Regions from separate parts of the Homo sapiens genome. Here all the other regions are linked to region 2. The links come from fine-mapping of genetic effects on plasma protein levels. A gene starts in region 2. Each other region holds a variant in brackets. All regions are shown on one strand. Distances are from middle to middle.

Region 1 (2,715 bases), 60 kb after region 2:
CCACACCTGGCTAGTTTTTTTGGTTTTGGTTTGGTTTTTTCGTAGAGACAGGATCTTGCTATATTGCCCAGACTGATTTTGAACTCGTAGGGTTAGGCAGTCCTCCTGCTTCAGCTGCTCAAAGTGCTGGGATTCCAGGTTTGAGCCACCCTGGGCACCTTGCCTTTTTTTTTTTTTTTTTAATTATGAGTTAAATTCCCTTGCAGCAGGCAGTTTACACTTCTGAAGCCTCTAGAGAGGGCTGTGTCTGAAGCTGCCCTGGTGTGTACCTTGCTTGGGTTTTGTTTTTTTTTTTTTGGGTGTGTCTCATGTTGCCAAGGCTGGTCTCAAACTGCTGGGCTCAAGCAGTCCTCCTGTCTCAGCCTCCTGAGTAGCTGGGACCACAGGTGTGCGCAACAACACCTAGCTAGTTTTTGCTTATTTTTTGTAGAGATGGGGTCTTGCTATGTTGCCCAGATTGGTCTTGAACTACTGGGCTCAAGCAGTCCTCCCGCCTCAGCCGCCTAAAGTTCTGGGATTACAAGTATGATCTACCACACCCAGTGTGCAATTTTTTTTTTTAAAGAAAATACCTATGAGTTAAATTTCCTTGCAGTAGGCAGTTTGCACTTCCACAGCCTCTAGAGAGAGATGTGTCTGAAGCTACCCTGGTGTGTGACTTCCTCAGCTTTTGGAGAGCAACTCCAAACCTGCTGGCCAGTTTCTGGGGTGTTGTTGTGCTTAATCCCTTGATGCCTTAGGTCAGCTCTTTGTCTTATTTATTTATTTATTTTGAGATGGAGTTTCACTCTTGTTGCCCAGGCTGGAGTGCAGTGGCACGATCTCAGCTCACCACAACCTCCGCCTTCTAGGTTCAAGCGATTCTCCTGCCTCAGCCTCCCAAGTAGCTGGAATTACAGGCATATGCCACCACACCCGGATAATTTTGTATTTTTAGTAGAAATGGGGTTTCTCCATGTTGGTCAGGCTGGTCTCGAACCCCTGACCTCAGGTGATCTGCCTGCCTCGACCTCCCAAAGTGCTGGGATTACAGGCATGAGTCACTGTGCCCAGCCATTTGTCTTATTTATCATTACTATTTTTTTGAGGGGGGACAGGGTCTTCTTCTGTCACCCAAGCTGGATGGAGTACAGTGGTGCGATCGTAGCTCACTGCAGCCTTGAACTCCTGGACTCAAGCAATCCTCCCACCTCAGCCTCCTGAATAGCTGAATACAGGCATGCTCTACCACACCTGACTAATGATTATTATTATTTTTTTTTTAGA[A/C]ATGGGGTCTTGCTGTATTGCCCAGGCTGGTCTTGAACTCCTGGGCTCAAGCCATCCTCCTGCCTTGGCCTCCCAAAGTGCTGGGATTATAGGCATGAGCCACGGTGCCCAGCCTTTGTCTTAGTTTTTGGTCCCCCTCACCTGACCCCAGAGTTCTAGAACCATTCCCTTGGAAAGAAAGGGACTGGTCAGGGCTGGGGATGGAGAAGTGCTGTGGTAGGAGCCCTTTCTTCTCTTTCTTCCCCAGCTGGATCGCCATACCTACCCTGTGGTCCTCATCTTCCTGGCCTCATAGCTCCTCCTCTCCAAGCATGTCTTCCCCGTTGCAAAGAGCTGTGGGAGATACCAAGAGGGCCTTGTCTGCATCTTCTAGTTCCTCTGCCAGTCTACCCTTTGATGACAGGGACTCAAACCATACCTCAGAGGGGTAAGTAGATGTTGCATTGTGTGGCCACTTCCTGTGTCCCTGGCAGCCTTCCCCCTCGTTTTCCCACATTGATGATAATATGCGTGGGACTGTGTGAAAACACCAGAAGTGCTATACTCGTTCAGCACAGTGACACCCTCCCTCCAGCTCCAGGTGTTTTTTTTGGCGGTCCTAGATGTTGTAGACATCAAAATAGTAGTACATCCTGTTTTTTTTTTTTTTTTTGAGACGGAGTCTCGCCCTGTCGCCCAGGCTGGAGTGCAGTGGCGCGATCTCGGCTTACTGCAACCTCCGCCTCCTGGGTTCAAGCACATCCTGTTTTTAATCCATCATCCATCTTGTCTAAACCTCTCTTAAACACATTTCTATGTTCAGCATGTACCAACCCTGGTGGGGGCTGAGAGCTGGCAGATGGGGGAGTAAAGAGTTCTTTATTTGTTGCCTGGTAAATTGTATATACTTTTTGGCTAGTGTCCCCTATTTCTTCTACTTGGGGATTTTGTAAATAGGTCTGTGTATCCTTATTTATTACCATATATGAGTTTATTCTGTGTAGGTTATAATAATATATCTTGGTTTTTTACCTTTCCAGAAGGAAAAAAGCGAATTTCATACAGATCTGCTTTATCCCCTGGCTGTTTTAATTGGCTTTCTCTGAATCATTTCTGTTTCTGTCAGTGCTGCTGTGGGGGACCAGATTATATCAAAGTTATAAACTTGAATTGATAAGACATGTGGTTTATGTTTCAAGGGGGTGAAATTTAACTCTAGATACATATTACTCTCCCATTTATGGATGAATGATAGATGACTTCCTGAGCCATGATTATCTTTCTCTACAAAGAGCAGTGATCTCGCTACCTGCTAAGTGAGTATCATTTGATTCTCTTCTTCGGAGAGAATACTAGGAAGAGTTGTCCTTCTCCTGCCTCATTTCCTCATTCTTCATCTCCATTGCTTTCATGTGAAAGTTTTCCTTTAAGGCTTTGTCCCGGCCGGGTGTGGTGGCTCATGCCTATAAT
Region 2 (2,760 bases):
GCCAAGATGGTGCCACTGCACAACAGCCTGGGTAACAGACGGAAACCCTGTCTCAAAAAAAAAACAAAAAAAAATTAAAGTGGCACACTTGCAGTTGGACATTAGGAAGATTAACATATCAATACTGCTTAGGAGTAGTACAGGTAGGGTGGGGCCGTGCTGGAAGGATGGGAAGAGGGAGGCCGAAAAACAAATTGGTTCTTTTCAAACCATCCCTGATCTCCTCCCCGACTTTTATAAGTCTTATCTATAGGGAACACAACTATTCGAGACATACTCTGTGCCTGGCGCCGGGTTTACAAGAGGGGGTCGTGTCCCACTTCCCTGGCGAACTCCTACGAATCCTTCAATACCCGGCGGTACCCTCTGCCAGTAAAGGCTCATAAAACACGCTACAGTCACAGGATCTCCTCAGATCAGTGGAGGCGGCAGGAAGGCGTCCCAGGGAAGGGTTAACTTAAGCGAGATCCCAGCAGAGAAGCAGGTCGAAGATCCCCGGGCAGCGCGAAAGGAGGTTCAGAGAGCCCACCCCATCTCCTGCAACATCTCTCCAATGCAGGCACACACACGGGGTCCCCACGAGCACAGACACACAACCAACCGTCCTCTTTCCAGTCCCCACAAGGGACCTTCAAAGGGTCTCCTCCGGGGTACCACTCAGACCCGCCCCCGCCACCCGAGCGCGGGGAGCAGGAAAACTCTAGCGGCAGCCGAGACGCTGCTCACCCGGCGCTCGGCGCCATCTTGGCCCCGCCCCCTCGTGGGAGCAGGTCCTGGCAGAGCCTAAGAGCAAGTCACTGCCCCTTCCCCGTACCAGAATAAGTCCTCTAGGCTCGCAGAATGAAATTATATTTTAAAAGTTTGTTTCTACATCTATATATAAGGAGCACTCCCTCTTGGTGTAATTACTGCAATTTATTCCTTCACTACCCGGCTGCCAGGACCTTCAAGAGGCGCCACAAAACGGAGGCAGGGAAACCCGTAGCAACGAGGCCCCACCCTTGTTGGGCTGATCCTGCGCATGCGCCGACCTTCCTCGGCTGGATTTAAGGTTGCCGCTAGCCGCCTGGGAATTTAAGGGACCCACACTACCTTCCCGAAGTTGAAGGCAAGCGGTGATTGTTTGTAGACGGCGCTTTGTCATGGGACCTGTGCGGTTGGGAATATTGCTTTTCCTTTTTTTGGCCGTGCACGAGGCTTGGGCTGGGATGTTGAAGGAGGAGGACGATGACACAGAACGCTTGCCCAGCAAATGCGAAGGTATTTGAAGGGGGTAGCCCCTATAGGCATCGCCCGGCCACACCTCCTTCTTCTAGGCCGGACATCCTAGCCTGTATTGGGTGGGTCACCCGACCTCCTTGAAGGCTTGAGGGAGGTTCTGGTGGAGCTTGGCTGAATTTGGATGGGGTCAAGGAAGCGAACGTGTAGTGCCACCTCAAACTGCATCCAGAGAGAGCCTGCATTTTTTTGGCTGGCTTGGAACCCCCCGCCCGCCAATGGATTGTGGGAATTGTAGTTCAGGGACCATCGGCCCGGGACTGCCAACTTTTAGAGCATCTTCAGTGAGTGTTTACCTCATGTCACCAGACCTTAATCTGCAGAGGCTGCAGGAGCCGGGTGTGAGGCTCAGGCCTTGTGGACATCCGCTGCCCTACCCTAGCATAGACGCTCCCAAATTACAGGCCCCACACCCCGCTGAGGGGGTTTGAGGGTGAGTAATTCAGCCTTTGAAGCTCATAAACAAAAGGAAGCCACACAACTAGGAGAGTGTCCCCATCCGGTGAGACTTTGCAGACGGTGCGTACTATATGGATTTTTCAGCAAGCAGCGCCTTCCATAGCTGCACTAGCGTGGGGCCCAGTTGAGAAAGGGGGCTGGCCCTGATGCCCTAGTTTGCTGCCCTCCTGACTTTACGTTTCTTCCCTGGATTCCTTTTCTCTTCGCTTCACCCCCTCAACTGTATTCCAGTATCATGAAAGGCAGTCATGACAGTCTCATGACTTGGTCCTCATCTCTGTCTCCTTTCACCTCCGTGTGCCGCTCTTCTCCCCTGACCTGTCAATCTTTTTAAACAGACTTAATCACCTAATTGTATCAGTCCTTGCTTTAACACCTCTGCAGGCCTTCTATCAGAATACAGCCAACGGGCCTGGGCACAGTGGCTCACATCTGTAATCCCAGCACTTTGGAAGGCCAAGGTGGGAGGATCACTTGAGCCCATGAGTTCAGGCCCAGCTTCACCACAGCTTGTCATCCTTGGTTTATCTGTCCCAACTACACTGACAGAGACCTGTAGATAGAGATAATAGGTCTTATTGCTGTCTATATTGTTAGTATGCATACAGAAGGAGCTCAATAAATAACTGCAGGATAACAGTGAATACTTATACAGTGCTCACTATGTGCCAGCCTTTATATATGTTGATTTATTTAATCTTCATCACACTCCTATGAGGGACATACTATTATTATCCAATTGTATTAATTTTATATATATATATATATATATATATATTTTTTTTTTTTTTTTTTTTTTTTTTTTTTTTTTCTCTTTTCAGACAGCGTCTCATGCCGTTGCCCAGGCTGGAGTGCAGTGGTGCAATCTCGCTCACTGCAACCTCCGCCTCCCGGGTTCAAGCGATTCTCCTGCCTCAGCCTCCCAAGTAGCTGGGATTACAGGCGCCCGCCACCATGCCCAGCTAATTTTTGTATTTTTAGTAGAGACAAGGTTTCACTATGTTGGCCAGGATGGTCTCAATC
Region 3 (2,760 bases), 27 kb after region 2:
AATCCCAGCACTTTGGGAGGCCGAGGTGGGTAGATCACTTAAGGTCAGGAGTTTGAGACCAGCCTGGCCAACATGGTCAACATGGTGAAACCCCCTTTCTACTAAAAACCCAAAAAAATTAGTCGTGCCTGGTGGTGCGTGCCTGTAATCCCAGCTACTCGGGAGGCTGAGGCAGGAGGATTGCTTGAACCTGGGAGGTGGAGGTTGCAGTGGGCCGAGATCGCACCACCGCTCTCTAGCCTGGGCAACAGAGGAAGACTATCTCAAAAAAAAAATAAATAAATAAGCCAGTTGCAGTGGCTCATGCCTGTAATCGTAGCACTTTGGGAGGCCGAGGCAGGTGGATTGCTCTGAGCTCAGGAGTTCAAGACCAGCCTGGGCAACACGGTGAAACCCCGTCTCTACTAAAAATACAAAAAAAAAAGCCGGGATGGCAACGTGCCCCTGTAGTCCCAGCTACTTGGGAGGCTGAGGCAAGGGAATTGCTTGAATCCAGGAGGCGGAGGTTGCAGTGAGCCAAGAGCGCACCATTGCACTCCAGCCTGGGCAACATAGCAAGACTCTGTCTCAAAAAAAAAAAAAAGTTGAACTGATACTTCACAAAAGATGATATCCCAAAAGCCAAACCTGTCTGAAAATGTGATCAACCTCATTAATATTTAGGTAAATGCAAATAAAAACTACAATGAGAAGCCATCGCATATCCAAAAACTTTACCCTAAAAGTGTGGCAATACTGGCTGGGCATGGTGGCTCAGGCCTGTAATCCCAACACTTTGGGAGGCTGATGCAGGCAGATCACGAGGTCAAGAGATCAAGACTATCCTGGCCAACATGGTGAAACCCATCTCTACTAAAAATACAAAAATTAGCTGGGTGTGGTGGTGCGCTCCTGTAGTCCCAGCTACTCGGGAGGCTGAGGCAGAAGAATTGCTTGAACCCGGGAACCAGGAGGTGGAGGTTGCAGTGAGCTGAGATTGCGCCACTGCACTCCAGCCTGGGCAACAGAACAAGACTGTCTCAAAAAAAAAACAAAAAACAAAAAGTGTGGCAATACCATGTGTTAATGGAGCTGGAGATAACTGGGAACTCTGACACATTGCTAGAGGAGTGTGAGTTGGTCCAACCAGTTTGATTTGCAGACCATAGATAAAAAAGATAGGAAACTCTCTGATTCATTTTATCTGGCAACCTGCTCTTTCTACCAAAAGCAGATAAAGAATATACCAAAAAGAAACTACAGCCCAATCTCATTTATCATAATAGATTTTAAAAATTCTAAATAAAGCAGTAAAACAAATGGGTAGTATAATTTGTTCCAGCAGATTTTATTCCAGAAACACAAAGATGGTTAAATATCAAGAATACTGCCACCATAATTTATTACATCAAAATCTTTTTTTTTTCTTTTGAGACGGAGTTTCATTCT[T/C]GTTGCCCAGGTTGGAGTGCAATGGCACAATCTCAGCTCATTGCAACCTTCGCCTCCTGGATTCAAGGATTCTCCTGCCTCAGCCTCCCCAGTAGCTGGGATTACAGGCATGCACCACCACACCCACCTAGTTTTTTTTTTTTTTGTTTGTTTGTTTTGTATTTTTAGTAGTGATGAGGTTTCACCATGTTGGCCAGGCAGGTCTCGAACTCCTGACTTCAGGTGATCCACCCGCCTTGGTCTCCCAAAGTGCTGGGATTACAGGTGTGAGCTACCACGCCCAGCCTTGAAATTGCTGTTTCTAACAAGTCTTAAAAGACACCCAGACTTTAACAATTGTTATTATATTCAGATTTTTTTGTTGCTTTTTGAGACAATCTTGCTCTTTTACCCAGTCTTGAGTGCAGTAGCATGATCATGGCTCACTGCAGCCTCAACCTCCTGGGCTCAAGCGATTCTCCCACCTCAGCCTCCCGGGTAGCTGGGACTACATGTGCAGTATCATGCCTGGTTAATTTTTAAATTTTTAGAGATGGGGTCTTGCTATGTTGCCCAGGCTTCTAGAATCATTCTTCATATTATTTCACTAACACAGCCTCCACCACATTAATATGGCAACAGGTTTAGAAATTATTTAAAACAAAAATTTCTAATGTTTACATATATTGTGTGATGTGTGTGTGTGTGTGTGTGTGTGTGTGTGTGTGTATCATTCCAAGGTACTGTTTCTAATTTTTTCCTGTAGGGAATGAATATTCAGTATTGCAGCTGCATTGGCTAGCTGGGGATTCTATTTACCACCACATTGTCCCGGACTGAATCTGGGGACAAAAAAACCACTTCGGGAACAAATTCTTGTCTTCAACAAAGAGCTGTCTTGAGTAGGCACAAAAGTAGCATTTGAGGGCCGGACGCGGTGGCTCAAGCCTGTAATCCCAGCACTTTGGGAGGCCGAGGCGGGCGGATCACGAGGTCAGGAGTTTGAGACCAGCCTGGCCAATATGGTGAAACCCTATCTCTACTAAAAACACAAAAATAGCCGGGCGTGGTGGTGGGCGCCTGTAATCCCAGCTACTCGCGAGGCTGAGGCAGGAGAATTGCTTGAACACGGGAGGCGGAAGTTGTATTGAGCCAGAGATCGCGCCATTGCACTGCAACCTGGGCGACCGAGTGAGACTCCGACTCAAAAAAAAAAAAAAGTAGCATTTGAGTACCTTTTTTTTCCTTTTCTTTTCTTTTTTTTTTAGAGGAAGGGCACCCAGGCTGGAGTGCAGTGGCACCATAATAGCTCACTGCACTCTGCAACTGCTGAGCTCAAGAGATTCTCCTCCA

Direction of the effects. Alleles are on the strand shown, and positions count from the first base shown. The strength of an association depends on the size of the effect and on how common the allele is. Not every link is listed here.
As copies of C replace A in region 1, the plasma level of the protein whose gene starts at base 1,032 in region 2 goes down (moderate association).

What was found. PIP is the chance, under the fine-mapping model, that this variant and not a neighbour inherited with it causes the effect. The UK Biobank Pharma Proteomics Project read protein levels with antibody pairs (Olink). The fine-mapping took linkage between variants from a reference panel, not from the people measured, so its PIPs are less certain.
Region 1: its variant is fine-mapped to the plasma level of the CNPY4 protein (UK Biobank, PIP above 0.99).
Region 3: its variant is fine-mapped to the plasma level of the CNPY4 protein (UK Biobank, PIP 0.96).

The regions. Positions count from the first base shown.
Region 1 is chr7:100,178,980-100,181,694 of GRCh38, forward strand. STAG3 (STAG3 cohesin complex component) reads left to right here. Exons shown (of 34, transcript NM_001282717.2): 2 at 1,514-1,693. The coding sequence starts at 1,578. Among named protein-coding and RNA genes, the nearest start is that of STAG3, 2.4 kb to the left of the region's middle. The variant A/C (reference allele first, on the strand shown) is at 1,267.
Region 2 is chr7:100,118,603-100,121,362 of GRCh38, forward strand. CNPY4 (canopy FGF signaling regulator 4) reads left to right here and starts at 1,032. Exons shown (of 6, transcript NM_152755.2): 1 at 1,032-1,260. The coding sequence starts at 1,143. It overlaps TAF6 (TATA-box binding protein associated factor 6), which reads right to left and starts at 756. Exons shown (of 15, transcript NM_139315.3): 1 at 602-756. RefSeq lists enhancers at 709-858, 1,069-1,288, 1,659-1,728.
Region 3 is chr7:100,145,521-100,148,280 of GRCh38, forward strand. No RefSeq gene overlaps it. Among named protein-coding and RNA genes, the nearest start is that of LAMTOR4, 2.0 kb to the right of the region's middle. RefSeq lists an enhancer at 2,401-2,760. The variant T/C (reference allele first, on the strand shown) is at 1,429.